Linked DNA regions of Homo sapiens: region 1 is linked to region 2. Evidence: fine-mapped expression QTL. Tissue or cell type: T cells. Region 2 holds a variant in brackets; the other region holds the start of a gene. All regions are shown on one strand. Distances are between the middles of the regions. Region 1 holds the start of MBOAT2 (membrane bound glycerophospholipid O-acyltransferase 2). Region 2 overlaps LOC124907729 (a long non-coding RNA gene).

Region 1 (13,996 bases), 44 kb before region 2:
TGTGGACACCATAGTGTACTTACACAAACCTAGATGGCATAGTCTGCTACACACCTAGACCAGATGGTACAGCCTAGGAGGGTGAGTGACCAGCGTGTGAATGCAAAGGTCCAGGACTTTACCGTACACCACTGTAGACTTCATAAATACTCTACATTTACGCTACACTGAATTTATAAAATATATTTTCCTTTCTTCAATAATAAATTAACCTTGGCTTACTGTAACTTTTTTACTTTATTAAGTTTTTAATTCTTTTATAATAACAGCGTAAAACATACTGTACAGTTGTATAAAAATATTCTTCCTTTATATCCTTATTCTATCGGCTTTTTTCTATTAAAATTTTTTTAATTTAAAAAACGATTAAAAACTAAGACACAAACACACACACTAGCCTAGGCCCACACAGGGTCAGGATCATTAACATCACTGTCTTCCACCTCCACAGCCTGTCCCACTGAAAGGTCTTCAGGGGCAATAACATGCACGGAGCTGTCATGTCCTACAATAACAATGCCTTCTGGAATATTTCCTGAAGGCCCTGCCTCAGGCTGTTCCACAGTTAATTTTTTTTTTAAATAAATAGGAGTATACTCTAAAACAACAATAAAAAGTATAGTAAATACATAAACCAGTGATGCACTTAGGATTATCAAATATTACGTACTGTACCTAATTGTGTAGTATACACAATGTGCTAGACTTTTATAGGACTGGCAGCACAGTAGGTTTGGACTGGCAGCACATTAGGTTTGTTTACACTGGCATCACCACAAACACATGAGTAATGCGTGGTGCTACGACATGACAATGACTACAGCTTTACTAGGCAATAGGAATTGTTCAGCTCCATCATAATCTTACGAGACCACCAGCAGACATGTGGTCTGATGACCAAAATGTCACTATGCAGTGCACGACTGTGCTATACAAAGTCAGGGCTACACATGGCTGTACAAATTTAGAGTAGTCCCAAGGTACCAACTTAAGACCTTTAGCTAATAAAGAAGGATGTCAAAAATTTTAAGTCCTGTCACTTTCCCTTGATTCTCCTGCTTACTTCAGTACTGAAAAGAACTTTCTCTGGATGCTTAAATGCGTTCATTAATAGCAAATCACTTTAAAAAGTTATAAGCATTATATAAATGAATAGGTATTATTAGCATAGTCAAGAAAATATTTCAGCATAGCAGGGACGGGTAGGGCTATGGCAGACATGGAGCGGGAGGGAAAGAAAGATGGGGGAGAGAAAAAGGGAACGTGAACATGTGCCCATCTCTCTGAAAGAAATGTAAATATATAAACCTATCTCCCTTGCTCCTCATCAGCAAAGAACTTTTCAACAGACACCCACCCTGCATTTGCTGATATACTGGAAGTAGCCTATTTAAGGCAGGAGTGTGATATGCTAAAAGGTCATACACTGCACACCAGTGTGGAAATGTCAGCAAGAATCCTCCGCGGGGCCGGGAGGATGAAAAACCCTAAATTCTGGTCAATTTATTAATAAAGAGAGAAGAATATTTTCTTCGAATACACGATTAATTTCACTACCATACTTTATTAGCAAGACACCCATTAGAACTCTTGTTCAAGACAGGTGGGGGATAGGTACTTTACTATTAACCAGAAGTTATGACCGCGATGTGGAATTTCAACAGAAGCCACAATTGTTTAACACTCCTTCGACATACTTAAGGCGATTTTATTTAAAACAGTAAAGCACAAAGCAGCTAGTATCCTAATGTCAGGTTTCCAGCTTGCTGCTATGGAAAGCCGTCTGGACAAGAAGGAATCCCGTATTGAAGTGAAATCCCTGAAGACTAAATGACAGCAGCACCTTCAAGTTCAAGACAGTGAACCAGTATCCCGTGTGAAGTCCAAACACTTCCAGGTTAAGTACACTTGAAATAACTGTAAGCAAAATTTCCAAAGTTAACTACCTTTAGCCTGGGGCTAGAGCAATCACCTAACTATACACCCCCGCCCCCCAGCCCCCGCCTCATTAACAACTTCCCTAAATCTCACTGTCACAACAAAATACTTCCAAACTTTCTTTTCTCAGTAAAAATGGCGCTGCTTTTCCCATCACAATGCTGTTTATTTCTCAGTAATCGTTAGGCCCTTTAAACCATCAAACTCGATTGGCCTCATTTAAATACCACCCTTCCCTAGACACTGTCAAGAGCTTTTCTGAGGGCTGGGCAAGGAGGTAAAGTGGCTGCATCAATCTACAAGGTTGCCACTTTGTCAGCAAGAATCCTGGGATTAACTCCGACTTTTCTTCATAACCTGTCTGCCTTCCCACAAACTGTTGCCTCTGTCTCTCTTAAGCCACAATCCAACGCAAACTGTCCCCAAAGTGCAGTAGCGCTTAAGCCTCTCCGGGCCCCTAGCACCCATCGACGCCGTCTCTAAGGCACCCAGCACACCCAGACCCATGCATCAGCCTCTCCGGGGGTCGCTCAGAGGCGCGCGCGGGGCAGGCAGCACCACGCCAGGCTCCCCAAAGCGCAGCCTTCCGCACCCTTTCCACAACCCGGTCCATGCGCACCGGGGGCTGCTCCGGGACCCGACCACCGGATCCGAGCGCCGCTGCCGCGAAGGGCAGGGACCGCATGCACACCCGCACGCCCATACGACCACCCTCCCCGGGGGCTGTCGCCGGCAACAACGCCCGGCCCACCTCCCGCTCGGCCCGGGGATGGCGGGCTGGGGGCGCACCCAGGAGGGAGGGGGCTCTGGGACAATAACCGGCTTGTTGCCCCCTCCCTTCCAGGGAGCGGCGGGTAGGGGGGCACCGGGCGCCCGGCCCCAGCCCCCACCCTCCTCCCGGGCCCCCGGTCGGGTGGCACCGCGGCGGGGAGGGGCGGCGAGGGCGCGACGCCCGGCGCCAGGGCGCCTCGGGGTACCTGGTCGATGGGCAGCTGCACGGCGTTGCTGAGGGGCTGCAGCAGGGTGGAGCCCGTGGTGCTGGTGGTGGCCATGGCCGGGCCTCGGCGCTCCGGCCGCCCGCGCCGCTCGCCCGCTCGCGCTGTGCCGGGCGACGACGAGGATGGGGATGCAGCGGCGCGCCCGCCCCTGGGCCGCCCGCGGTCGGAGCTCTGCGCGGGGAAGGCCGGGGAGGGGCCGGGGGCGGTGCCCGGCTCGCACCTCCCCCTCCGCCGCCACCTCCTCCCGCGCCCGCCGCCCCCGACCGCCCTGCACAGGCGCGGCCCGTCCTGCCGTCGCCCCCGTCGTCCCCGCCCCGGCGCCCCAGCCGCATCCCCCGCCCCCGACTTCCAGCAGCTTCCAGCGGCCCCCTCCCCACCTCGCGCGCTCTCGCTCCAGACAGCTGCGCGACCCAATCGCGGCGCGACGCCCTGACGCCCGCAGCCAATCAGAGAGCGCCGGCCGCGCCACGCCCCTCCCCCGTGCCGAGGACCCGGGCGAGGGCGCCGAGGCGCGGCCCGGGCCGTCGCCGGAGAACGGCTGGCCAGCGTCGTGGGGCGCGCTCCTCGGGTGAGAGCATGGAAGAGCGTCTTTGCCCCTCACTCCTCGGTTTCTCCTCCCTGGAATGTCGCGGCCCCCCACCCCTCTCTGGGAGAGACGGCAGACAACAAAGGGGCCCGGGGTGGCGGCCGGAGGGACGATGTGAGGGACGCCGCCGAGCCAGCGCCAGGGGAAGTTGGGGACGAAGGTGGGGGCTGGGAGGACGACAAACCAAAACAGCGACCTGGCTGAGAAGCCCCTTTGTCTGGGAGAGTGCCGGGTGAAAGCCCAAAGCTGAGAGCAGCCCCGGGGTCTGACGCTTTCGTCACCCTGCAGCCGCACCCGGGCCTTTGGGTGGTGAGAGCTGGGCCTGGGTTCGACGCCCGCGGGCGCAGGGAGACCGGCTCCCCTTTGCTGTGTGAAAGTTTAGTTCTTTGTAGCCAGCCGCCCTCGTTGAAGGCCCCACCTTCTTCCTGAGAAAGTTTCTAAGCATCCCTTCACCCCTTGAGCGCAGGCACCCCCAGACTGTTGAAGTCCGCCAGGTTTACATACCCTGGCGGGTCACGTGTATATATAATCCCCCCAACTTCGTAAAAGTAAGCCATTTGAGTTCCTTTAAAATGCAAACGTCAACTTCTGTTCAGAAGACTTTAAAAGAGGAGAAATGCCACAGCAGTTATGAGGACAAATCAAGACTCAAGGATTTGGCAGTTTAACTTTGGTAGAAATAACTAATGTTTACTGAGAGTTTAACCACAGCTTTAATACTTTTGGTATTTAATCCTCACAATAACCGTGTGAAATAGACACTTTTACACACCCTCCTTCAAGGAAGTTGAGTCACAGAAGAGGTAACTTGCCCAGGGGCACACAGCTGGTAAGTAGATTGGAATCCAAGTAAATCTACATTTAGAGCCGACCTTATCACTAGGCCTTCATCTCTCTCACACTTAACACCCATTCCAGAAACTCCCGTCAGCTATCAGTTATACCATTGGGTTGATGACTAGCTTAGAGTCTTGAATAAGAAGGCAGCACAGATAAAAATACACCTGCCTTAGTAATCAGTCTGTGGGCTTACGTTTGTCTCTCTGAAAAGGAGGCAGTGGAACTCATCAGTGCAATCCCGTCTTGCCTAGAATCCTTTCACTGGTCGACTCAATCCTAGTTTGGTGGATTCTCAGCTGAAATGGAATAGAGGATAAAAGGAAGAGTAAAAAGAACAGGACCTTCATTCCCCCAGGGGAGTGTTCCAGTGGGATTTGTAATCAATTAGAGAGCTGCTTATTACAGTATATTAATCCAAAAACCCAGACCTATTAATATTATATTAGAAAGAAACCATTTTTTTTTCCTTTTCTTCACTTTAGAAAAGTAGAGGAAGCGCACAGGTGGCTGAGCATACAAACTGAAGAAAAAATTGAAATGCCATTTTAAAAACTTGAAAGGTGGGTGTTGGGAACATATTGCAACCTAAAGTAAGCAGCATGGAGATACAATCTCAGAGCTAGAACAAATAATGTCTGCAGAAAGGAGTTTCCTTAAGCTAAATTTTTATTTTAGTCAGACATGACAGAACATAATCTGTATTTGGGGTAACTACATGAAATTATTTAATATCTAGAATGGTTGAGCGCTGTGGCTCATGCCTGTAATCCCAGCAGTGAGCTGTGATCGCACCACTGCACCCCAGCCTGGATGACAGAGTGAGACCCTGTCTCAAAAAAATAAATAGGCCAGGCATGGTGGCTCACGCCTGTAATCCCAGCACTTCTGGGAGGCCAAGTTTGGTGGATCATTTGAGATCAGGAGTTCCAGACCAGCCAACATGGTGAAACCCCGTCTCTACTAAAAATACAAAAAAAATTAGCCGGGCATGGTGGCAGGCACCTGTAGTCCCAGCTACTCAGGAGGCTGAGGCTGGAGAATTGCTTGAACCCAGAAGGAGGAGGTTGCAGTGAGCCGTGATCACACCACTGCACTCCAGCCTGGGTGACAGAGTGAGACTTTGTCTCAAAAAATATAAAGAAATAAATTATATATATATATAGAGAGAGAGAGAGAGAGAGAGAGAATAGGGAAGATTTTAGCCATCTGGGAAAATTTTGCTGTGTCAGAGTTACAAAACTATAGGTAAAATATAGTATAGTAGTAATAATAGCTTAGATTTTGGAATCAAACACACCTAGTCTCTTCCATTTATTAGCAGCAAGATATTGGGCAAGTTATTTAACCTTTCTAAGTCTCCATTTCCTCATGTAAAAATGAGCGTAATAATGGCACCAACTCCATAGTTTATGAGGTTATAAAGGTGTACTTATATGAAGAGCTCAGAACAGTGCTTGGTGCATGATAAAACTTAAGAAAGATTATATTAGAGTTCTCCAGAGAAACACAACCAATAGGAGATAGATATGGTTTTGCTTCTCTGGAGAACTCTAGATAGAATAGATAGATAGATAGATAGATAGATAGATAGATAGATAGATAATAAATAGATATGGAAATAGATAGACAGAAGTTTATTATGAGAGATTGGGTTGAGATTATGAAGGCTGAGAAGTCCCACGATCATCTGCCATCTGTAAGCTAAAGGCCGAGGAAAGCCAGTAGTGTAGGTCCAGTCCAAGCCCAAAGGCCTGAGAAACACAGGAGCCAACAGTGTAGTTCAGTTTATGTCCAAAAGCCTGAGAACCAGGAGCAATGATATCCGAGGGCAGGAGATGATGGATGTCCCTGTTCAGAGTGAATTCACCCTTCCTCCACCTTTTTGTTCTATTTGGGCCCTCAGCAGATGTGATGACGCCGGGGTACGTGGGTGAGAAAATCTTTACTCAATGTACCAATTCGAATGCTGATCTCTGCAGGAAACATGCTCAAATACACATTGAGAAATAATGTTTCAATAGCTCTATCTGGGCACCTTTTAGCCCAGTCAAGCTGACACATAATATTAATCCAAGAAATTTAGTATAATTCTGAAAATGGAAACCATTTGTTTCGTATTAAATATACTACCTCTTCATGTTTTTAATGAAGAATTGAAGCTGGCATTTTAAGCTGATAACTCATTGATGGTAGCATAAACTGTGTGCAGGCCATACAATTAGCCTGACCAGTATCTGCTAATTATACCAGAAGCTCTTCAGTGGAGACAAAAGAGAAAAGAATTAAACTAATTGTATATAATGCCTCACTGCCCTACCTTGGGTAACATCCATCCTATAAAGAGCAATTCTTGTGTTAAAACATTTATTGACCACTTACTATGTTCAAGGAGCTATGTGGGGTGACGTAAAGGATAAATGATGCCTGTAATCAAAAGAAGAAAACAGTCGTATTCACAAATTCACATGTTACAAGAAAAGTATCAAGGAAGTTTCTTTTTTTAATGTTAAAATCAAAGGAATATGTCTGTAAGAAAGAAGCTTAGCTTGAAGTTAAAAGACCTGAATTTTAACCCTAACTTTTCCACCAGATAGCTATGAACTTTAGAAATTGGCTTAGCTTCTCTGTGCCTTAAGTTTCCCATTGTTAAATATGAATAATGGTAACTGTTCATCCTACCTCATAGGAGTGTTGTGACTATGAGCATGAACTTAATCATAGACTCAATTATTTTTAAAGTTACTAGTACTGTTAGTCTGAGAAATAATAACTAGTAGTAAAGGGATTTCAATATAGCAGCCACATTGTTAACAAGAGTTACTTAGACAAAGGCACAGGAGCACCAGGCAGCATCCACGTGTGGTAAGATGGCAGTGCGGCAGTGCTCTTGTCCTGGGTTCATTGCCCTCGCCTCCTAAAATCGCTGTGATCATTAAAGATTGCTAAAATGAGATGTTTCCTTCCCAACTTATTTTTAACATTGAAGAAACCACTGGGAAGAAATGAATAATCTGCCAAGCTGCTTTTGTTTTGTAAAAATAGTATGTGCCATGAAATTCCATCTCTCAGGCAATTATTTTGCCTATTCTATGTTCCTATACCCTGGAATAATTTTGATGGATGAAGAACATTGAACCATACACATAATAACAACCCAAGTTAACTAGAGGGGCATCTTTAAGCACTTGCAAGCTAACCTTAGCCTGAGACTAGAAAATGGAACGAGAATGTCACCCTTTAAGACCTAACATAGTTCAATTAGGAAATCACAAAGTAGGCTGAACAAGAGGTAGCAAACACAGTAGGAGAAGTCCTGGCTCCACTGTATTCTGGCTCCACCACGGACGTGGACTGTACCAGCAAACAAATCACTCATCTTCAATTTCATTGGGAACATGTTAAGAGATTTGTTAAATAAATGATTTCAATTGTCACCTCTTCCTCTAAAATTAAATGATTCCCAAGAATTTTTGGGACTTTCTCTGTCTCTGTGAGACCACAGTCTAGGTTTAAATTAGGCTAAAAGATGCAAATGAAACTATTACTCATCAGTTTGGGAATAGCACTGCTTTCTAATTATTCCACAGGTTCCAGGACTACCTCAAATGTATTACGTCTCTAATCAGTCTTTCTCCTTAAAAATGCCTATTATTTCTTGGTGGACTGCAAAGATTTCTGTTTTATATCTGCGCATCTTGGGAAACATTTTATTTTCCTCATAGATTTATTTGGCATTTTTATCTTTATATGATTGAGTCAAATCTCAATACAAAGAACACCCCTTTCATGCTTATTTATTACAACATGAGCATGCAGCCTCCAACCCCTGATTCCTAGGTACAGAAAAATAAAGTTCAAGCTTTTTCATGCTTTTGCATATCTGCATAATAGTTTTTGTGTCCAAATTATGAAACACCTTAAATATAAATTGCTGTAGCCTCCCCAGGGTTCATCATAATCACCGTCACCACTAGCAGCATTTATTGCATCTGCTGGGGTCACTGCACTGGGGAAGAAGGCCTCATTTTCTCAGTTCGCCTAATATTCCAGGTTCTTTCTGTTTATCTATAATTGTAAGAAGAGTTGCCCTTCTGATACATGTTGACATATCACTGTTCTGCTAAACAGTGTAGTCTGGCTACTAGGGGAGGAGTTACACCCACCCTCTTCTGCTGCCAGCTCTGTGACAAAGAGAAAGCTGTAAGTTATTCTCCAGCCTGCTGAAGAGTTTTGTGTAGTCCCCAGCAGCCTATCACTTTCAGCAGAATTCCCTCTTTAGAAGTAAATGTGTCAAACTGCATATTTTGTTATGGGTATTTTATGCCTAAACCCTTCCTCCCTTATTGTCATTTTATAGATGCTGGGTTTTGGTCCACAGATTACAATACCAGTGTCCTAACTAATGTCAGAGTTCTAGCCAGTGAAAAATTAGAAATGAGAGTCATCTCTTCCCATCATGTCTGGGGTTACCACATCTAACCTGGTTCTCTTGCCAAAGAACTTGCTCTCCAGGATGGATGACTCTGGATAAACATGAGTTACCTGCTAAGGAATGGCCTTATAATCAGATGATAGTCTGGTTTCAAGCTCATCAAATTATCTTTTAATTTATTTTCCATTTGAAATCAAATAGTTATTCCCTCTTATTTACATTCTCATCTAGGCCTAAAATACTGTTTATCACAAGACAGTTGTTATTAAAACCACAAAACATTAAGTTTAAAGGTAAACCTATCATGAAAGAGATATTGTTCCCAAGGAAGCTTAAACCAATTTATTATTAAATTTACAAATAATGGGTTGCCACTTCCAAAGTGAAGATGTAGATCAGGTGGAAATAACACGAAAGGAGGGTCCTTTATTAGATACTTCATCTGAAGTTTTGTCCTTAACTTTGTTGAGGCATCGGGTGGGGAGGGTTACATTAATAGAAAGCAATAGATAAAGAAGTTGGGCACTGGAATGAGAAATGAGACTGCCTTAAGTTCGAGGCCTTCTTATTTGATTTGGGGAAAGTTACTTAACCTCCTTGGGCCTCAATCTTGTCATCTATAAAAAGGGAGTAATAATGATTTGTTGTGGTGTTCAAATAATACACTTAATGCTTGTCACATTGTAAGTGCTCAATAAATATTAGCCATCATCACCTTCATCAGCAGCAGCAGCACCTTCATCATCATCATCATCACCATTATGTCTTACAGCATATGGTTACATTTATCATCATAGGTACCATATGCTAGATAGAAGGGTAGATTAAAAACAAGTTGTTACATGAGCACAGGGAGGGGAACAACACACACTGGAGCCTGTCGGGGGTTGGGGGATGGGTAGGGGGAGCATCAGGATAAATAGCTAATGCCTGCTGGCCTTAATACCTAGGCGATGGGTTGATAGGTGCAGCAAACCACCATGGCACACATTTAGCTATGTAACAAACCTGCATGTCCTGCACATGTATCCCAGAACTTAAAACAAAATCTAACAAACAAACAAACAAAACATAAGTTGTTGCTTTAGTCAGCTTATTCCTCCAGATTGAGGGGGAAAAAACACTGAGGGCTAAAATATAGGGTATAAAGAGTACGTTAAGTGATTTAATAAATTCCTGGCCTACCTCACCTGAAAGCATTAACAGAGTTTTGCACTTAACGGAAATAAATTGGGCGACAACTAGTTTTGAACATTTTCTTCTTAAATGCTGGAATATACTGTGGTTAGATATTTTGCTTTTAACTGTTAGTATCTATTCTGAACCTTTACAACCTACACAGTAGGAAAGGGATTTTAAAAGGACAAACAGTAACTCATATAAAGATTTCATGGATAAGAACTAAGCAATTGAATGCATAATTTATAGTTTGGAGTACCATATTACTTTGTGGCACATTTAAAATTGTTACTCTGATTGATTATTTTGAAAATTCCAGGCACCATTAGATTTCATCCCTCTGCACAGTATTTCTCTAAATACCATCTCTGAATCCACAAATATTTATCTTTTTTTGGTTAGCATCCAGCTGGTAACCAGTAAAATGATCCTACATTATTCTAGGACAGGAGCCAGGAACTTGGTCTTATTGCATAAAGCTACTCTATTCCTCTTTGTGTGAAATATATTCCACTACTGGTCCCTAGATACTTATTTAAGAGAGCACTTAAAATCGCTCCCTTTGGAGTTGCCTGAGTGTCATTGAGAAATAAATCAAAAGACAAAATCAACTCAAGTATGTCTGATACAACTCAACAAGGCAGTGTATCTCAGTGGGGTCCCAAGATCTTCTTTATTAGAATCACTCAGTATGCTTATTTAAAATCCAGATTTCTGGGCAAGTCAACACATAAAGAATCAGAATTTTCTATGTCAGAGCCTTAGAATCTGCATTTTATTAGTGTTCATGGGTAATTCCTAAGTACCCACTGAAGTTTAAGAACTATTGCCCTGGGCCCTTAATATATCGTATTCTATTAAGAACTTCATTATAATTAAGCAAATAGAAAAATAATTCATATATGCTGATTCATATGCCATAATAAATAATTTAACTAGGTTTTATTGTGTCTTTCCAATTTACAAATAATCCACAATCCTTTCTCTATGTTAAAATGTTAAATTCTCTAACAATACATCAGTACTAATAACTATGACAACTAACATTACTAGATCCATTTTCTAATGTAAATAAAATAAAAATCAAATGTCCAGGGTTCTTATTGATTATGTGTAATAAAGATATAAATATTCTTGTATATTTCTGAGTAGCTATGATTTCTTACAAATTTCAGAAACCTGCCAGCTTTGAGATCCTGCATTTGAGAGCCAGCATTGGCTGGATACACCATGCAAGTGATAGAGCATTTGGACCAGGAAGAGAATTTGGAAGTAAAGGGAATTGATGTAGCACAGTGTTCAGTTTTAAGAGCTTCATCTAGGTGAAGACTCATAAGTAATATACATATGGTATAGCCAAGGTCTTTTATGAAGGAAAAGTAATCACAGACAAAAATTGTCAAAGAAGAAAATGAAAAAAAGAAGCAATTAAGAAGTTTTAGAACAGGGCTGGCATTTTTCTCTTGTTTTTATTGTTTGGATTTCACTTTATTTGTATTAAACAATTTTAAGAGGCAAATAGCACTATAAGATTTTAGCAAAAAAAGAGAAGTCCCTGTTCTATCTTTTCTCATTCCTAAATTTTGCTTCCTATAGTTAACACTTTCAACTCTTTTTTTTCTCTCTCTCTTTTTTGAGACAGTCTTACTCTGTCACCCAGGCTGGAGTACAGTGGTGCAATCTTGGCACACTGCAACCTCTGCCTCCCAGGTTCAAGCGATTCTCCTGCCTCAGCCTCCCGAGTAGCTGGGATTACAGGCACCTGCCACCACACCCGGCTAATTTTTGTATTTTTTTTTTTTTTTTTTTTTTGATAGAGACGGGGTTTCACCATGTTGGCCAGGTTGGTCTTGAACTCCTGACCTCAAGTGATCCACTACTGTCTCCCAAAATGCTGGGATTACAGGCATGAGCCACCTTGCCTGGCCAACACTTTCAACTCTTTTAACTATTTCTATTGGAATTGACCTTCACATTTTCTGGGGTAAAAAAAAAAAAAAAGATGTTTATAGTGCTATTTCAGGACTTTTCCATTTTAAACATTGTACATTGACAACCTAACTGTGGATGATGAGAATAGAATTATTTTCCCATTCTCCTTTCAACCTGATTCTCCTAATATATTACTACTTTGGGCAAAACAAATATTTAGTGTTTCCATTATTATGAACTCATAGATATTATTCAGAGAGGAGCCACATAGTATATTATGATTATGTTTTCATTCCTCTACAACTTCGTGTTTTTCCTGGAGCTAACAGTTGCCTTTCCTTAATCATTCAGTTTTCTATGTAAGTATCATTAATTTGAATTCATTTCCAAATCCTACCACAGAACTCTAGAACTCCTATCAACATGGCCAGGTGCACAGAGTGATCTATTAGTTCTGTGTTTTTCTGGGTATCCTGGACCCCTGTGTTCTTCTGCTTCACTCTGTCCTGGCCACTCTTAAGCCCTAAAGCAAGCCTGCAGCCAAGGATTTTCCTTTGGTGTGATGGAGGGATTCCTTTCATTCCTCTCCCATAATGGGACACCTGGATGTTACACACCCAGGAACAACACCCAGTCCCACCGTAGGACTGCTCTAATAGTAATCCCACAGCCCCCGCCACTTGCTGTTTGGTACGTAACAACTCTAGGGACCAGATAGTACATGCATTGTCAATGGCGGTGAAAATTGGTTTTAGGAGATTGGGAGTAATAGATATTTATATAGTACATAAATAGGTAAACAATATATCTATGATCTTCAAATTTCGTGGGTAGGGTGGTTAAAGGAAAATGTTTCTAAAAAAGCTCCACAGAGGAGCAATAATGAAAGAAAAAAGGATGAGAAACACAGATAGCAGAGCCTTTGCCGCAGGTGCCCCAGAATATGTACTACCTCTGTGTGGTTACCATTTCTTGTCTCCAATGCCCAAATCTCTCCTGGGTGAGTTTGCCTGATGGACCTCAGTGACATGCAGAGCTGCTGCTGCAAGGGAGCCTGGGAAATACAGTTTTTTCTTTCTAGTGTCTAAAACAGAGGAAAGCTGTTAGGAAGGGGATGAGGGAGTGGGTGTTGAGTGCACCAGTCTGTGATATCTGCCCAAGATGGGTCTAGAATTTCAGATTGAAACCCTCATCACTTAGAATTTTGAAGGCATTGCTCCATTTTCTTATAAGTTCCAATGATGCTATTAAGAAATGTCATTTTAATTTCTGATTCTTTAGATGTGACCTGGTTTTTAATTTTTCTTCCCTCTCTAGAGATATTCTTTTTTATCGCTGATGTTCTGAAATTGTAGTGATCTGTCTTAGGTGGGCCTTGGCTATTCATTGGGCTGGGTATTTTGTGGACTCTTTGGATGTAGAAACACAAGACCTTCAGTTCAGGAAGTTTTTCATGTTTCTTTGATAATTGTCTTCTCTTCATTTTTCTGTTCTCTCTTTGTGGAATTCTTATTTGTAGGATAGTGGGCTTTCTGGGTTAATCCTCTAACTTAACTTTTGTCTTTATTTTCCAGCTTTATCTTTTCTTCTATATAACTTTCTCAACTTTATCTTCCAACCTTCTCCTGATTTACTAATATTTTCTTTAGATATTTTTCATTAAATTGTTCACAAAAATATATACATTCCCCTCATTGAAAATTCCTGCAATGAATATAAGTAACAAAATGAAATAAGAATGAAATAATGTTTCATACCCTTAAAAAGTTTAAGTTATGAGAAAGGGGGTTTGTTCAATAAAAGAAACAATAAATAAATGTGAACAAGCACCCAGAACACATCCAAATGTCTATGCAAAGACTGTTCCCAACAGCTATCCCACTGCACGTTATGGTTTATGTAACTCCTCAACCAACCACTTATGAAATGTAAGTTAAGAAATATGAGATCTACCTCATGTTTCTGATTTTCACAATATCAGTGCCAAACTCATACCATCTTCACTAACTCTAAATGTTGAATGTTTCCAAAGTGAAAAGCAAACAATTCTTATAACCTGCTGAGCAGATTTTGCTGAAATAGTGAATTTCA
Region 2 (15,195 bases):
AAAAAATGAAGAGTTCATGTCCTTTGTAGGGACATGGATGAAACTGGAAACCATCATTCTCAGCAAACTATCACAAGGACAAAAAACCAAACACTGCATGTTCTCACTCATAGGTGGGAATTGAACAATGAGAACACATGGACACAGGAAGGGGAACATCACACTTCAGTGACTGTTGTGGGGTTGGGGGAGGGGGGAGGGATAGCATTGGGAGATATACCTAATGCTAAATGACGAGTTAATGGGTGCAGCACACCAACATGGCACATGTATACATATGTAACAAACCTGCATGTTGTGCACATGTATCCTAAAACTTAAAGTATAATAATAATAATAAAATAAAATAAAATAAATTGGCCGAGTACAGTGGCTCATGCCTGTAATCCCAGCACTTTAGGAGGCCAAGGCGGGTGGATCACGAGGTCAGGAGTTCAAGACCAGCCTGGTCAACATGGTGAAACCCCGTCTCTACTAAAAATACAAAAATTAGCCGGGCATGGTGGTGGGCACCTGTAATCCCAGCTACTCGGGAGGCTGAGGCAGAGAATTGCTTGAACCCAGGAGGCAGAGGTTGCAGTGAGCCAAGATCGTGCCACTGCACTCCAGCCTGGGCAACAGAGTGAGACTCCATCTCAAAAAGAAAGAAAAAATATTAGGAAGATGGAAGGATGGGAGGGATGATAACAGAGCTAAATCCTTGTCTACCACTATTGAACCTCAGTGCATTCTGTCTAAAATTTATGGATCAAAAGAATGCAGGTTTGCAAATTATTTTTAAACGTGGAGCTATATTGCTGAAGGCACAACCAGAAGGTTACAGCAGTTCCTTCTGGGAACAGGACTGTGGAGGGAAGATAGGCAAGGGACTGTTCTCTTTGATTATGAACGTTTTAAGCCTTTTGGAAACATTTAACTATGTACCACTATTACTTCAATAAAAGTAAACATTTTGAATTCATGCTTGAAATGACTACCATTACAATAGTAATAATATGAATAATTCCACTATTGCTTAAGCCTGGCTTCTAAAGCAGCAGGCGATGGTTCATCAAGAAGGGGCAATGCCAGCAAAATATGTGGGCAGCGTGCAAAGCGCTTGTTGGAAGCCTTCAATGAGCAGCAGGCAGTGTGGCTCTCACTTGGTTTCTCCTCACAAAGGAGAGCTTTGCAGCCCCTAAGAATTTACAAGTATTTCAAAGTCAGCTTAAGGTCTTATCCTAAGAATGGTTGGTTAACAATTGTCCAAAAGCATAACATGAAAAAGCCAGATAGGCCTGAGTTGGAAACAGCATGTGCACCCCTTGCTGGGTCACTCTGAGTAAGTCTCTTCTGACTTCCGAGCCTTCATTGCTTCATCTATAAAATGGGGGTGATAAAAAAAAACCCTCAAACAATTGCTGTGATGATTGCATGAGGTCATGTGTAAGAAGGCATTTAGCACAGCACAGAAAAGTGCTCGACAAATGTCTTTTTCATTCATTCATTGGTTCAAAATGAAATGAATCATGGTTCAAAGAAAAAAACAAGATCAAGATTCCCCCAAAAGGCAGATGTGATCAGTGTGATTATTTTATTCTGCTAAACAAAAACAGAATTATATTCCACACATTGCAACTAATGTCCTAATCGAGGGGAAATTGCTTGATCATGATGAAACTTCATGTTTCGTAAAGGTTCTCATATACAGTCAGCATAATTTATGAGAATTAATTCGTGATGGCTCTAGAATTCTTTGAACCCCTCAGTTACCGTAAATACGAAGTATCATTAAAGAGAAATGCTGTCTCCTCTAATCTCTTCTCTTTGTGTTCTCTTCTCCTTAGGAGGCACACATAGAATCGAATAGTGCAAAGCTCTCTTGAGTCAAGAAGACCTGGACTCAAAGTCGGCTTCCTCTGTGTACTTACCCTGGGCCACCCCTCTGAGCTCTGATTTGCTCGTCTGTAAATTTGAGATAATGTATTATTATCCCAAAAGCTATGTATTACACCTTGCTGGGTTCTTTATAGGTTGAGTAAAATATTGTATGAGATAGTGTCAACCACGTAAGAACCATCCAATAAATATTCATTTCCTTCTTCTGACTTTTTATTAAGTACTTCAACAACCTTCCTTCCTTCCTTCTCAAAGAACCTAGAATCTTCCACAGCATGATTTCATATTATTGTGTGCTCTTTCTTCTTGCTTCAAGGGATCTTTGATAATCTGTTCAGATAATTATTCCATCTCCAATAATTATCTAAGTAACCTTCATTCTCTTCTTCCTTCCTCTTCTGTATTTCAAATACATAGAATAGTAACCATTACCTTTATACCCCCACAAAATCTTAATATTTTCGCATATTTATCTCAGATATATCTTTTTTAAAACATCATATAATAGAGTTGAAGCCTTCTATCTTGAAGTTGGAATACATCATTCCCAGGAGTGTTTTTAAGCTTTCATTACACATACATGGATGTATGCATGTTACATGTTACATGAAATTGTTTTGCAACTCTGCCATCCAGGCTGGTTTGCAGTGGTGTGATCTCAGCTCACTGCAACCTCCACCCCCCAGGTTGAAGTGATCCTCCCACCTCAGCCTCCCAAGTCTGGGACCACAGATGTGTACCACCACGCCTGGCTAAGATTTTTTATTTTTGATAGAGATGGGGTTTCACCATGTTGCCCAGGCTGGTCTCGAATTCCTAAGCCCAAGCAATTCACCTGCCTCAATCTCCCAAAGTGCTGGGATTATAGGCATGAGCCACTGCACGTTTGCAAATTTTTTAAGTTAAAGAAAATATGTCATACTCCATGCAACATTCTACGACTTGTTTTGTTCATGCAGCATGGTTTTTGAGATTTATCCAAGTTGATTCATTTTAGTTTCTATATAAAATTCCATTGTATGAATATACAGCACTCCATTTGTCTATGCTCTCGTGGTGGACGTTTGTGTTCACATTTTCACTATTATCAACAATCTGACAATGTTTTTAAACAATTCTCCTTATGTGCATATTTCAGCATTTCTCTAGGACGGCAGTTTGAAGACATTTTTGTCTCAGTACCTCTTCATCCTGCCGACGTTTATTTAGGAACACAGTGAAATTTGTGTATGTGTGTTATAGCTATCAACACTTATCATAGTAGAGATTAAAACTGAGAAAATCTTAAAATATATGTTAACTTATTTAAAAATCACTAATAAACCCACTATATGTTAATTACATTAAAGCTATGTATAGTCTTAAATTTCTAAAATATTGCCAAATTGTTCTCCAAAGTGATTGACTGAATCCATACTCCCATCAATAGTATATAAGCATTTCTATTTTTTTATGTCCTCTTCAACACTTGGTATAGTCAGGCTTGTTAATTGTGGCCAATCTGATGGTTAGGAAATAGTGTCTCACTATTGTTCTAATTTCTACTTCCCTGCAACAACAAGGTCCTTTACTAACTCCTCTTAAATTACCAAGCTGGAACATACTCAGGACCCTGATGTAGGATACTTTACTAAATTTTGTTTTAATGATTGTTTAGAACTCAGAACACATTATTATTACAATTAAACCTAGAGACACTATAAATAGTGGTCACCATTCCAGACTAGCCCACAAACACTGAATTACCTTAAGGTGTAGACTGGGGTCCCCAACCCCCAACCCCCAAGCCACGGACGGATACTGATCCGTGGGCTGTTAGGAACCAGGCCACACAGCAAGAGGCCACACAGCGCGGGCCAGCGAGCATTACTGCCTGAGCTCCGTCTCCTGTCAGATCAGTGGCAGCCTTAGAGTCTCATAAGAGCACATACCCTACTGTGAACTGTGCATGTGAGGGACCTGGGTTGCGCGTTCCTTATAAGAATCTAACTAATGCCCCGATATGAGGCAGAACAGTTTCATCCCGCAACCATCCCGCAGCCCCTGGAAAAATTATCTTCCATGAAATCGGTCCCTGGTGCCAAAACGGTTGGGGACCACTGCCATAGAGGGATGAGAGATCTCGAGACTAACAGCACAGCAGTCAGAGGAGGGCTGGCCTCAAACTCAAGACTGAGTCTCAGCTCCCACCCTGTCAGTACTCATCAGTTACCTCTCTGAATCTATTTTCTCAACTATGAAATGGGGATAATAACATACATTCTCCCTCACAGGGCATTGCAAAGATAAAGTGAGATGTGAAAATCCATTAAAACTCTGTATGGTATATCCACACAATGGAGCACTATGCAGCTATAAAAAATAAGGAATATATCTGAACTGATATGGAATCATTTCTACGGCATGTTGTTAAGCAAAATAATAATAATAATAAAAGAACAAAGGAGTACATATATTGGTATCTTTTGTGTATGAAAGACATACAGATATAGATGTTAGACATATATATATATATATATATATATATATATATATATATATTAGCTTATTTTTGTGAAAAGAATATCTCTTTGTATAGTATGGACTTCCAGAACCACATTAATGTTTACATACACCAAAATTAAATAAAATTAAATTAAACTATGTCAATAAGATGGAGGAGGGGAAGTCCTAAGATGTAACACAAACAGAAACAAATGAACTCAATGGTATTTAAAATAGAGAGCGTGACTACAGTAAAAGGGAGGGGAACTAACACAAATAACTTTGTTTTTAAAAAATAAACTCACCCTGAGGAACTTTTTAACACAGTATTTCGACTACAAGGAAAAAGCCTATTGCAAGCAAATCTTGAACTGTATTTAAGTAGGGCTTATTTTAGCAGTGTTGTGGGCTAGCAATTCTAAACAACTTGCTATGTATGTAGGAGTGAACAAATGAGTACACGTATTGATGACGTTGAGAAGGAAAATATTAATACATAATGGTAAAAGGCTAAGAAGAGCCTTGCGGTGTTGAATTGGAATTCATGGTTTCTAAATACTGTATAGATATAATTACATTTGTGAATATTTGTGTGTATTCTCTAGTTTTTTCTGCTGAAACGGCCTAGAAACAATGATACCCAAAAGCAATAAACATGCCTAGCACCCAGATGTCAGATTCTATATACTGTTTCCCAGTAAAAAGAAGCAGCACTTCTCCAAAAAAAAAAAAAAAAAAAAGCCAATTATAAGAGTGGGGCAGGGAAAATGTACTATGAGCCTGGAATGCTTTGTTATGCCATAACAAATAAAAAAGTACTCAAAAAAAAAAGGATACATTCAAAGGACATGGGGAACAGCTTGCAGAAGCTCTCACTGATCAAAGTCTGGGGAAACGTGAGCGTCAAGATCAATAATAATAATAATGGATTATAACCCGTTGGGTAAAATAAGAATCCGTTAATCCACACTGATTAAACAAAAATAAGTACACAAGAGAATGGAAGAATGGAAAGATCTTCTAGTATAATTAATAAGTTTAGAGAGAATGCTGAACTTGGTTGCCATTTTGCAACTATCATACCAATAATTGATTTAGGCAAGAATCATCAGTGAGTGCTCAAACTAGTTGTGGGTGTCTCACCACACACCACCACCTTTGAGAAAACACGTACGAGGAGCTACACAATCTAGGGTTCATCGCCTCAACTTGGTAAGGTGGCTACAATTGCGGTTATCCCCATTTTACAGTTTAGGACACTGAAATGTAGAGATGAAGCAACGAAGGCCACATGTTCTGGAGACAGGATTCAAATCGAGTTGACCACAGCCAGAGTTGTCTCTCTTCCCGCGTAGACTAGGGATCCTAGTGACTCCAGCTGCCAGGCAGCCTGGCTCTCTGGTGTCCCAAACTCTAGGGGGAAGAGATGTGTGGGTGAGAGTCCAACCTGTGGGATGGGGACACAGTGTGGCTTTGGGGGCCTGCATCACAAAAGCAGCTAGGCAGAGGCATGAGGTGTGATATGGTTGGGGCCACAGCTGTTCATGTAGGCCGGTGCACAGTTGTCTTATTCTACATCCATCTCTCCTCATTCCAGCTCAAGCCTCTCGCTTTTTCTTTAAAAGTAATGTTCGGGGAGGAGGATGTTACCTGAATTAGCCAGATATTCATCTCATCTCTTCGTTTCTTTTGGCCCACGTAAACACAGACCCAAAGTACTCCAGTCAGCGGAAATCTTGTAGATCTTGCTTGCAAAAGTGGCCGCTAAGACCAGGGCTGAGCCCTTGCATTATCTGTGCATATCAGGGCCTATTTACAAAGGGCCTCCGAGTCAGCTGTTGGATGTTATCTCTGACTAGGTTATATAAATAGCTACGAGATGCACTGACAGGATTAAAAGAAGTTTTCCATCACGCCACTTCTGTTGTTAAGTGCAAACATTTAAAGTCTACTACCATTTTTATAATCATGTTTCCCAACTATAACTATTTAATTAATTTATTTATTTGTGGTACATCAGGAACCTCAAAAAATGGATGTGATTCAGGGACTCTGTCTCTCTC[T/C]GGAAAGTCCCTATTTGTATGTGTGTTTCCTGCTTTTGAGTGTGATTCCTTTGAGGTTACATGAGGTCACATGACGGTCAATAGATCTTGTTGAATAAAATAAAGATGCTGTTAATTTCTCAATCAACAGAGCACCAGTTTTATTTTATTTTATTAACTTTTACTTTAGATTCAGGGAGTAAACATGCAGGTTTGTTACATGGGTATGTTGTGTGATGCTGAGGTTTGGACCACGATTGAACTTGTCACCCAGGTAGTGAATATAGTACCCAACCAGTAGTTTTGAAGCCCCTGCCTCCTCTCCCACCCCTCTTACATTCCCCAGTGTCCATGGATCCCATCTTTATGTCCATGTGCACCCAAGGTTTAGCTCCCACTTCTAAGTGAGAACATGTGGTATTTGGTTTTCTGTTTCTGCATTAGTTTGCTTAGGATAATCGCCTCCAGCTTGCATCCATGGTGCTGCAAAGGACGTGATTTTGATCTTTTTTATGACTGCGTAGTATTTCATGGTGTATATGTACCACACTTTATTTATTCAGTCCATCACTGATGGCCACGTGGGTTGATTCCATGTCTTTGCTATTGCAAATCACCAATTTTCTTTTTTCCTGGTTTCGAAATTATCTTATTGCTTTACGTGCTACCTTATTTACCTGAATTTAAACCGGTAGTTTTATTCAGAGACTGCTTATTTAAATGGTATTATAAGTATCGAGTTAAATATCAAAAGCAATTATTAAATATTCTGTTAACAGAATGCTCCTTGTTCCTACTGAGTAGTTTTATGTTTTTCTGTTGGAAAAAAAATTAAAGGAATGTCATCTCAGAGAGTGAAACAATCCATCACAGTAATTAACACAGGAGGGTAGGCACACATGGAATAATCATACCCTGGAGTTCAATGTAGGAGAAGGACAGTGTGGCATTCCAGGTGATGATTGCACACCATAAGGACTACCCATCCCTCTGATGCCACATTAAGTCAACACGTCTGAAATTTCTAAAATATTCAGTATTACAGGATGAAATTTGGACAAATCCATAAGATCTGTGCACTTCTGTATTTATTTATTTATTTATTTATTTATTTATTTATTTATTTTTTGTGATGGAGTCTCACTCTGCCGCCTAGGCTGAAGTGCAGTGGCGCAATCTCAGCTCACTGCAACTTCTGCCTCCCGGGTTCAAGCAATTCTCTGCCTCAGCCTCCCGAGTAGCTGGGATTACAGGTGCCCACCACCATGCCTGGCTAATTCTTGTATTTTTAGTAGAGATGGGGTTTCACCATCTTGGCCAGGCTGGTCTTGAACTCCTGACCTCATGATCCACCCACCTCAGCCTCCCAAAGTGCTGGGATTACAGGGAGCCACGGCGCCCAGCCGCACTTCTATAATTTTAAATGTATTTGCTATCAACTGTCCGCATCCCAGCAACTCCCAAATACTTACATTTTATCGGGTGCTGAGGAGAAATTAAACCAAATTAGATGTGTTTTCACTCTTTCCCCTAAGCTTGAATATATAGACATAGTATCAACAATGTCCCCTTTGTAGCAAATTATTGCTTTTATCTTTTTATTACTAGGCAACAAATTATTTACTTAATTAGGAGGTAAGTTAGAAACCCAAAAAGCATCCTTTTTTTGAGACAGGATCTTGCTCTGTGTCACCATTACGGCTCACTGGAGCTTCGACTGCCCAGGCTCAGGCGATCCTCCCGCCTCAGCCTCCCAAGTACCTGGGACCACAGGCGTGCACCACCACACTCAGCTAATTTCTGTGTTTTTTGTAGAGACGGGGTTTCACCTGGTTACCCAGGCTGGTCTCAAACTCCCCGACTCAAGCAATCCACCCGTCTCAGCCTCCCAAAATGCTGGGATTACAGACGTAAGCCACTGCACCTGGCCCCAAAAGTCACCTTTAAAATAAAAATTTTAGAAGCACTTTTTGAGATCTGTAATATACCAGGTACATTTTTAATGAAAACCTTATGAAGTAAAATTCCCATTTTACAGAAGAGGAAAATGACATTCAGTGAAATTATTTACAGAGTTTTATAGTGAATAAATGACAGAAGTGGCATTTAAACCCAAGTCATTTTGCATTTCCTATGACATTGCCCTTCAGAGCTTTCTCTCACTCCCCACCCCTCCAGATGCCTTCCCAGATGGCAGCATGTTGACAGACATTGCTTCTGTGACTCCCCAGAGTCCCAGAGAGAAAGATGGAGATGACATTATGCATCGGGGGTTCCAGAAGCAGAGTGTGGGAACTATGAAGTATCTTCTCTGTTTCTCTGAAAGTTCTCACCTGGGTTAGAAGCTGATTTTCCTTAGAGCCCGGTTTGCTTCCTGGTATGCAGTGAGCTTAGTTGGGCTGATGTTGTCTGTAGGTGAGGCCTCCCACTGGTGGGGTAAGTTTATTTCAGAGGAATGATAGCATTTCCTCTTGCCACAAACCTAGGTCACACCCTCATTCTGGTTTTTTGCAGCATTCAAGTTGTTATCTCCATCAGGCTGGGTTCTGTGTCTGTATCTCAGCTGAACTCAAATTCTAGAAGAAAGCATATTCTGGAGCAAGCTGTGTATCTATCCCCTCTAAAGTATCAACAGGTGTGGGGCTTTGCTGGTTTCACAGAACACGTGCAACTGAAGACTGGACTCTTGAATGCTCTCCCTCTCTGTCAGCTCAGTACTTTCTCACCATCGGTCACCTGAAGACCAAGTTCCAAACACTCTGGGCTCTGCACAAGGCTCCATGTGACCTGTTTGTGCCGCAGTCAGCTATGAGGCCTGCAAGGGCGGATCCCTTTGTGTATCCGTGTTGCCAGTACCTGGCACTTGCAATGTGCTCAATAAACATGGATTTAGTGAATGAGTGTAAGGGTTAGCTTCACTTCTCAGAGCAAAAGGGGAATCTCCTATTTGGGTGTAATTTTTGCAAGTGACCTGGCAGCAGTAGTGAATGAGAAAGTGTTTCTGCTTCTCCTTTAGAACACAAGCAAAACATGTGGTTTCTGAGCCCATGGATCTTATAATTTTATTCATACACAGAAAAAAAGCAATAATGATTCATGAATGTGTAGGACAAATGCCAAATAAATTGGACAAACAGGAAAGGCCACAGATAATCCAAAGAAGAGTAATCACTGTGAAGGAGAGTTTTGAAATAAGTGGGTTTTGAAAGACAGCTGGGGTTTAAAAAGGGAACAAACAGTGAAGGTAAGACTGAAATGCGCAAAGCTGTGGTTGGTAGGGGAATGAGCCGGGTGGGTTTACAAATACAGAGGCCAGCAGGCTGGTCAGAGAAAGGTTTTAATTAAGAAGCAATAAGGAATAAGGTTCAGAAAGTGAATAAAGGCTGGGTTAGATAGAGCTCTGAACAGTTCTTAGGAGTCTAAACTTGGTTTTACAAGAAATGAGCATGCATGTTAGGATTATTTGGCTACATATAATAAACTCAAGCTAGCTTAAAAGGGAAAAGAAATTTTTTTAGAGAACTTGGAATATCTTTCACATAATAATTCCCTTATAAATAGTTGTTATATTGAATTAAACTCTTAGAATAACCCTCCTTTAAAATGTATGGAAAAATAAAGAGAAGAACAAAAGAAATGATGCAGAAAAAGAGGTTGGTTGCAACAATATTTATTAAACAGCCTTGAGTGCAGTAAAAGAAAAATTGAGATCATCCTAATTCAACAGTCTTTTGTCTCAGTCCTCATTCCTTGGGGTACCTTGATCAGTGCCAAAGGCATGTTTGTGATTGGGAGAAGAACTGGGTCTTCATGTCTGTGTTCTCTCTGTGCTCCTGCAACCAAGGACAAAGAGTTTCCTACTGAAGGAAAACATTTTCCCAGGAGCAGCTTTTTCATTTTCCTCTCCACTATGTTTTATTGTCAGCACACAAAATACCTTCATTGTGTCTTATTCTGCACAAAGCAGGACAAAGTCAGGCAATGTTATTACTTTTAAAAACCAAGGGAGCCAACAATACACTATATGATGGATAGTCATCGTTTTTATAGTGAATTTTCTTCAGTTGTACATCTCAATCTTATTTTGAGAATTAATTCAGAGGGTGAACTCCACTCAGTCTGTGAATATTAGAATAAGCAGCTGTAAAAGCATAAAATGTTTAAAAAGCTGGGGGTATAAGTCAGACAAAACCAACATTACTTTATTTGTTCAAAGAAGATACAAAAAAAAAACATTAAAAGGGACATGGAGATTAGAGAGAGAAGCAGTTTGGGAAACATGAATGAGCAAATTTTCTCACATTTTTTCCACTAAAAAACAATCATGAACTTGCATAATTTTATGGGAAGAAAAAATGGAACATTGAGCTGCAATGACTTATTTCAATTTAATTTACACTATTCTAATTTTACTTCCAATCCTTTCATGTACATCTATAAAATCTACATTATCATATATAAGGGACACCTAAGATGTTGTCTTCTGGTTTTTTTTTTCATTTTTAAATTTTATATAACCATGTCTATCTTTGACATTAGTTAGCACATTTGTCATTTTAATGTCCCCATAACATCCTTAGGATGGTGACATAACCCCTATGTACTTGGGAGTTGGAAGGTGAGTTCGGAGGATTTAATAGTTACAAGGCTTTTCCCCAACTGTAAATTGACTTGGTGTATGTACAAGTTCAGCAAAGTAAAGCACTGTAAAGGAATAGCCAGTAAAGTCCTTACATGAAAGATTGTTATGAGTATTTTCAGTAAAGTCATAGTATCTTCTGCTTGTAAGTTGTTTTTCACCATAAAAAAAAAAAAACCTATGGGGACAAGACAATAATTCATTAAATAGTGCTGGAAGAAACAGAGTGAAGAAACATGTGTGCCAATTGTTGGGTTATTATCCATTAGCTTGAAATTCAGGCTTTTACATTCTGCTTTGTGATACTGGGGCTCAAACTCTGCAAACGACATTTCTGCTTTGCCAACAGCTCCATGTTTGACTCCATCAATAGGGGTACCAGCGGAAGTTTATAAATCTGGAAGGAAAGAAGGGATTTATTTCTTCCAACTTGCTTCCTGTGACTTCCTGTCTACTTCCTGTCTACTTCCCGTGTGACTTCCTGTCTACTTCCTATATGACTTCCTTTCTACTTCCTGTGTGACTTACTGTCAGCTTTCTGTTCCTGTGAATGTTATCCCAAAGATACTTCCTCACCCTAACAGCAGTAGTTCCTTCCGGAAGTATCTTGATCCAGTTTGCAATTTTTCCAATGCCTGCAGAACCAGCTCTATTGTCTCTTCTCATCCCCTAGTCAAAGCTCAAAGATCCCAGCTCCAGCTGAGCAGCGCTCCTTCCTCAGAGGTCTGGATTTCCATTTGTCATTTTTCTTGGCTTCATTATTTTTTCTTCTTACCTGCCTTCTGTTAAAATAAGTTTTTAATAATTCCGTTATTGGCTGGGCATGGTGGCTCATGCCTGTAATCCCAGCACTTTGGGAGGCCAAGACAGGCAGATCACCTGAGGTCGAGAGTTGGAGACCAGCCTGACCAACATGGAGAGACCCCATCTCTACTAAAAATACAAAATTAGCCGGGTGTGGTGGCACATGCCTGTAATCCCAGCTACTCAGGAGGCTAAGGCAGGAGAATTGCTTGAACCCAGGAGGCAGAGGTTGAGGTGAGCCGAGATCATGCCATTGCACTCCAGCCTGGGCAATAAGAGCAAAACTCTGTCTCAAAAAAAAAAAAAATCCATTATCTTTTTTTCTACTGGTATTGATGTCAATTGCATTTCTATTCTGTTAGTGATTGTGCTTACTTTTTGACGTAAATATTTAACTATGAATTTCTCTAATACAGTGTACAGTTATTTCAAAATTTTAACCCTGCATTCACTTTGTCATTGTTTTTCTACTTTTTTACAAAAAAATAGTAATCACTATCTTTCCAAGTTATTTAAATTTATTAAAAATTTATCACTTTCACCGAGGTGGGAAGATCACTTGAGCTCAGGAGTTCAAGACCAGCCTGGGCAACATGGTGAAACTCTGTCTCTACCAACCCCATCTCTACCAAAAATATTTTTAAAAAGTTAGCTAGGCATGGTGGTGCAGGCCTATATTCCTGGTTACTCAACAGGCAGAAGTAGGAGGATGGTCTGAGCCCAGGAGGTGGAGGTTGCAGTGAGTGGAGATCACACGATTGCCCTCCAGCCTGGGCAACCCTGTCTCAAAAAAAAAAAAAAAAAAAAAAAAAAAAATATATATATATATATATATATATATATACATATATTTATATATATATATTTATATATCACTTTCTTTGCTCATCTTTGCTTCTTATAGCCCGTCTCATCTCTCAGAAGTTGTGTTTCTACTATGGTGTTATATTCTCATATTACTTGTTGTAGAGTTGTATAGTCTGAAAAATGTCCTAATTGTAAGCCCAGTTAAGAATGGTTATATAACTAGGTATAAAATTGAAAGTGAACACTTTTTGATACCTTAGTAATTCTCTGGTAACTTCTCAGGTTTTTCTCTTTATCCTGAATATCCTACACTTTTGCTCTTGTGTGTTTAGAAATGAATTTGTTTTTAATTAGCCTGCAAATTATTCAGAGTGTACTTTTAATCCGAGGTTGTGCTTATTTCTTCATTTTAGAAAATTTTCAGCCACTGTTGTTTTATTTATTTCTTCTCTGCTGGTTCTTCAAAATTCTTCTTTGGGAACTCATATGAGACATGTATTTTAGCTTGTCAGTTTATCCTCCATGGTTATTGTTATTTCATATTTTTATGCCTTTGCCTCTTTGTGATTTATTCCAGGTGAACTCCTCTGTAATAACTGTCAATTCATGGAATTTTTTTTTGACAGTATCCCTCTAGAGTTTACTCTGTACGTTTAACTAAAAAATTCTCTTTCTCAGTTTTCCAATTAGCACTTTTAAAATAAGAACCTATTTCTTTATCATTTCTGCTAGCTTTTATTTAATAATTTTTAAGTATTTAAATATTAATGTTATTCCTTCAGTTATCTCTTTGTAGATGCTAAACATTTTAAGAGACTTCTTCTATTTCATAAAATTAACTTCATATGATATGAAATTATGAGAGATATTTTCATTATTGATTTTGCTGGATAACTTTCTTGGCATTTCTCTCTGTGTTTTGGAATTTTGGTTTGCAGGCTCAGTTTAAATAGGAGTTTGTTGTCGTTGCTGCTGTAGTGGTTGTTATTAATGTGGTGAGGTTTTTAAAATCTCTTTCTCCCTTTATATTTTCTGTGCTGCTGTGATTTGGACTTTTATATTGTATTTTCTAATTGTATATCAAATATATAAGAACAAAAATATTTTTTAGACTTTTCTTTTCCTGCAGCTTTTATAGTCTTTTTAAATTTTTTTTTCACTTTCTGGTATATTTTCTTCAAATTAGTTGTGTTTAAAATGATAGTTTCTGACTGGGCACAGTGGCTCACACATGTAATCCCAACACTTCAGGAGGCAGAGGTGGGCGGATCACTTGAGGTCAGGAGTTCAAGACGAGCCTGGCCAACATGGTGAAACTCCATCTCTACTAAAAACACAAAAATTATCCGGGTGTGGTGGCGGGTGTAATCCCAGCTACTGGAAAGTCTGAGTCATGAGAATCGCTTGAACCCAGGAGGTGGAGGTTGCCGTGTGATGAGATCACACCACTGCACTCTAGCCTGGGTGATACAGCGAGACTCAGTTTCAAAAAATAAAAAAAAAAATAAATAAATTAAAATAAAATAAAATGATAGCTTCTTTCCTTTCTTATGTTTATAGCTCTTATTTATTTTTACTCTTAAGTAGCTATGTCTAGCACTTATAATACCGTATCAGCCATGGTCTAGTCAGAAAAACAGAAACCACAGAAAGAATTTAACACAAAGATTGCCTTTGGTTAAATTTTCATTGAAGGATGAAGAATGCAAAAAGATAACACTGAGGTAATATAGAGATTACAACTGCAGGAAGAAGCTGGGGGAATAAAGGGAAGAGATTGGAGTAATTGGAACCTAGAAACTTGGAGGAGGATCTACAGAGTTGGGCTCCAGGCCTCTAAGTAAGGAGCATCATCATCAGCTGCTGCTATCTCAGGAGTCTGGGGAGAAGTTTTGCAGAGTGGGACCCAGAATTCTGAGGAGAGACGTAGGCTATCTCTAAATGAGTGTGCTGAGGTTGGCTCTGCATGTATCAGGAAGAAAGCTGGAGATTGGACCAACCACTACTGCTGGAGTGAAAAGTCATTGCTAGGACAAACCAACAGGAAGAGCAAAACAGGAAGGACCGACTCCCTTCCCTCTGTTCCCACCTCCCAATCCCATGTAGTGCCTCTACTGATAGACCCTAACATGGAGCCATCTGGCAAAAAAGGGATGCTTTCTGCAGTCTCAGCCCCACCGTCACAGAGCAGGACAAGGAAAAGTAGGCTTAGAGCTGAGAGACAATGGCTTCATAACTGGCACAAACACTTACTAAAGAGGGTGATGATAGGCTACATCTCACCTTTGTTCCTATATTTAAAGAGGAGTGGTGCTAGTATTTTCCACTAAGTATAATGCTGAGTTGGTTTTAAACATATATTCTTTAATGTAAAGAAATGAATACTTCATTCCTATTATTTTTATATACTTGTTTTTAGTCAAGAAGAGATTGATTCTTGACATCTGTGAAAAGAATTATATGGGCCAGGTGGGTTGGCTTATGCCTGTAATCCCAGCCCTTTGGGGGCTGAGATGGGAAGATCTCTTGAGCCCAAGAATT

The links.
Region 1: MBOAT2 starts here. The variant in region 2 is fine-mapped to the expression of MBOAT2 in T cells (TOPMed, PIP above 0.99).

What each region holds. Positions count from the first base shown.
Region 1 is chr2:9,000,625-9,014,620 of GRCh38, forward strand. MBOAT2 (membrane bound glycerophospholipid O-acyltransferase 2) reads right to left here and starts at 3,060. Exons shown (of 13, transcript NM_138799.4): 1 at 2,916-3,060. The coding sequence starts at 2,990. It overlaps LOC124907728 (a long non-coding RNA gene), which reads left to right and starts at 3,452. Exons shown (of 2, transcript XR_007086199.1): 1 at 3,452-3,504; 2 at 4,845-8,239. RefSeq lists an enhancer at 1,717-2,371 and silencers at 2,136-2,430, 2,974-3,433.
Region 2 is chr2:9,044,141-9,059,335 of GRCh38, forward strand. It overlaps LOC124907729 (a long non-coding RNA gene), which reads left to right. Exons shown (of 2, transcript XR_007086200.1): 2 at 1,827-2,080. Among named protein-coding and RNA genes, the nearest start is that of MBOAT2, 48 kb to the left of the region's middle. The variant T/C (reference allele first, on the strand shown) is at 6,426.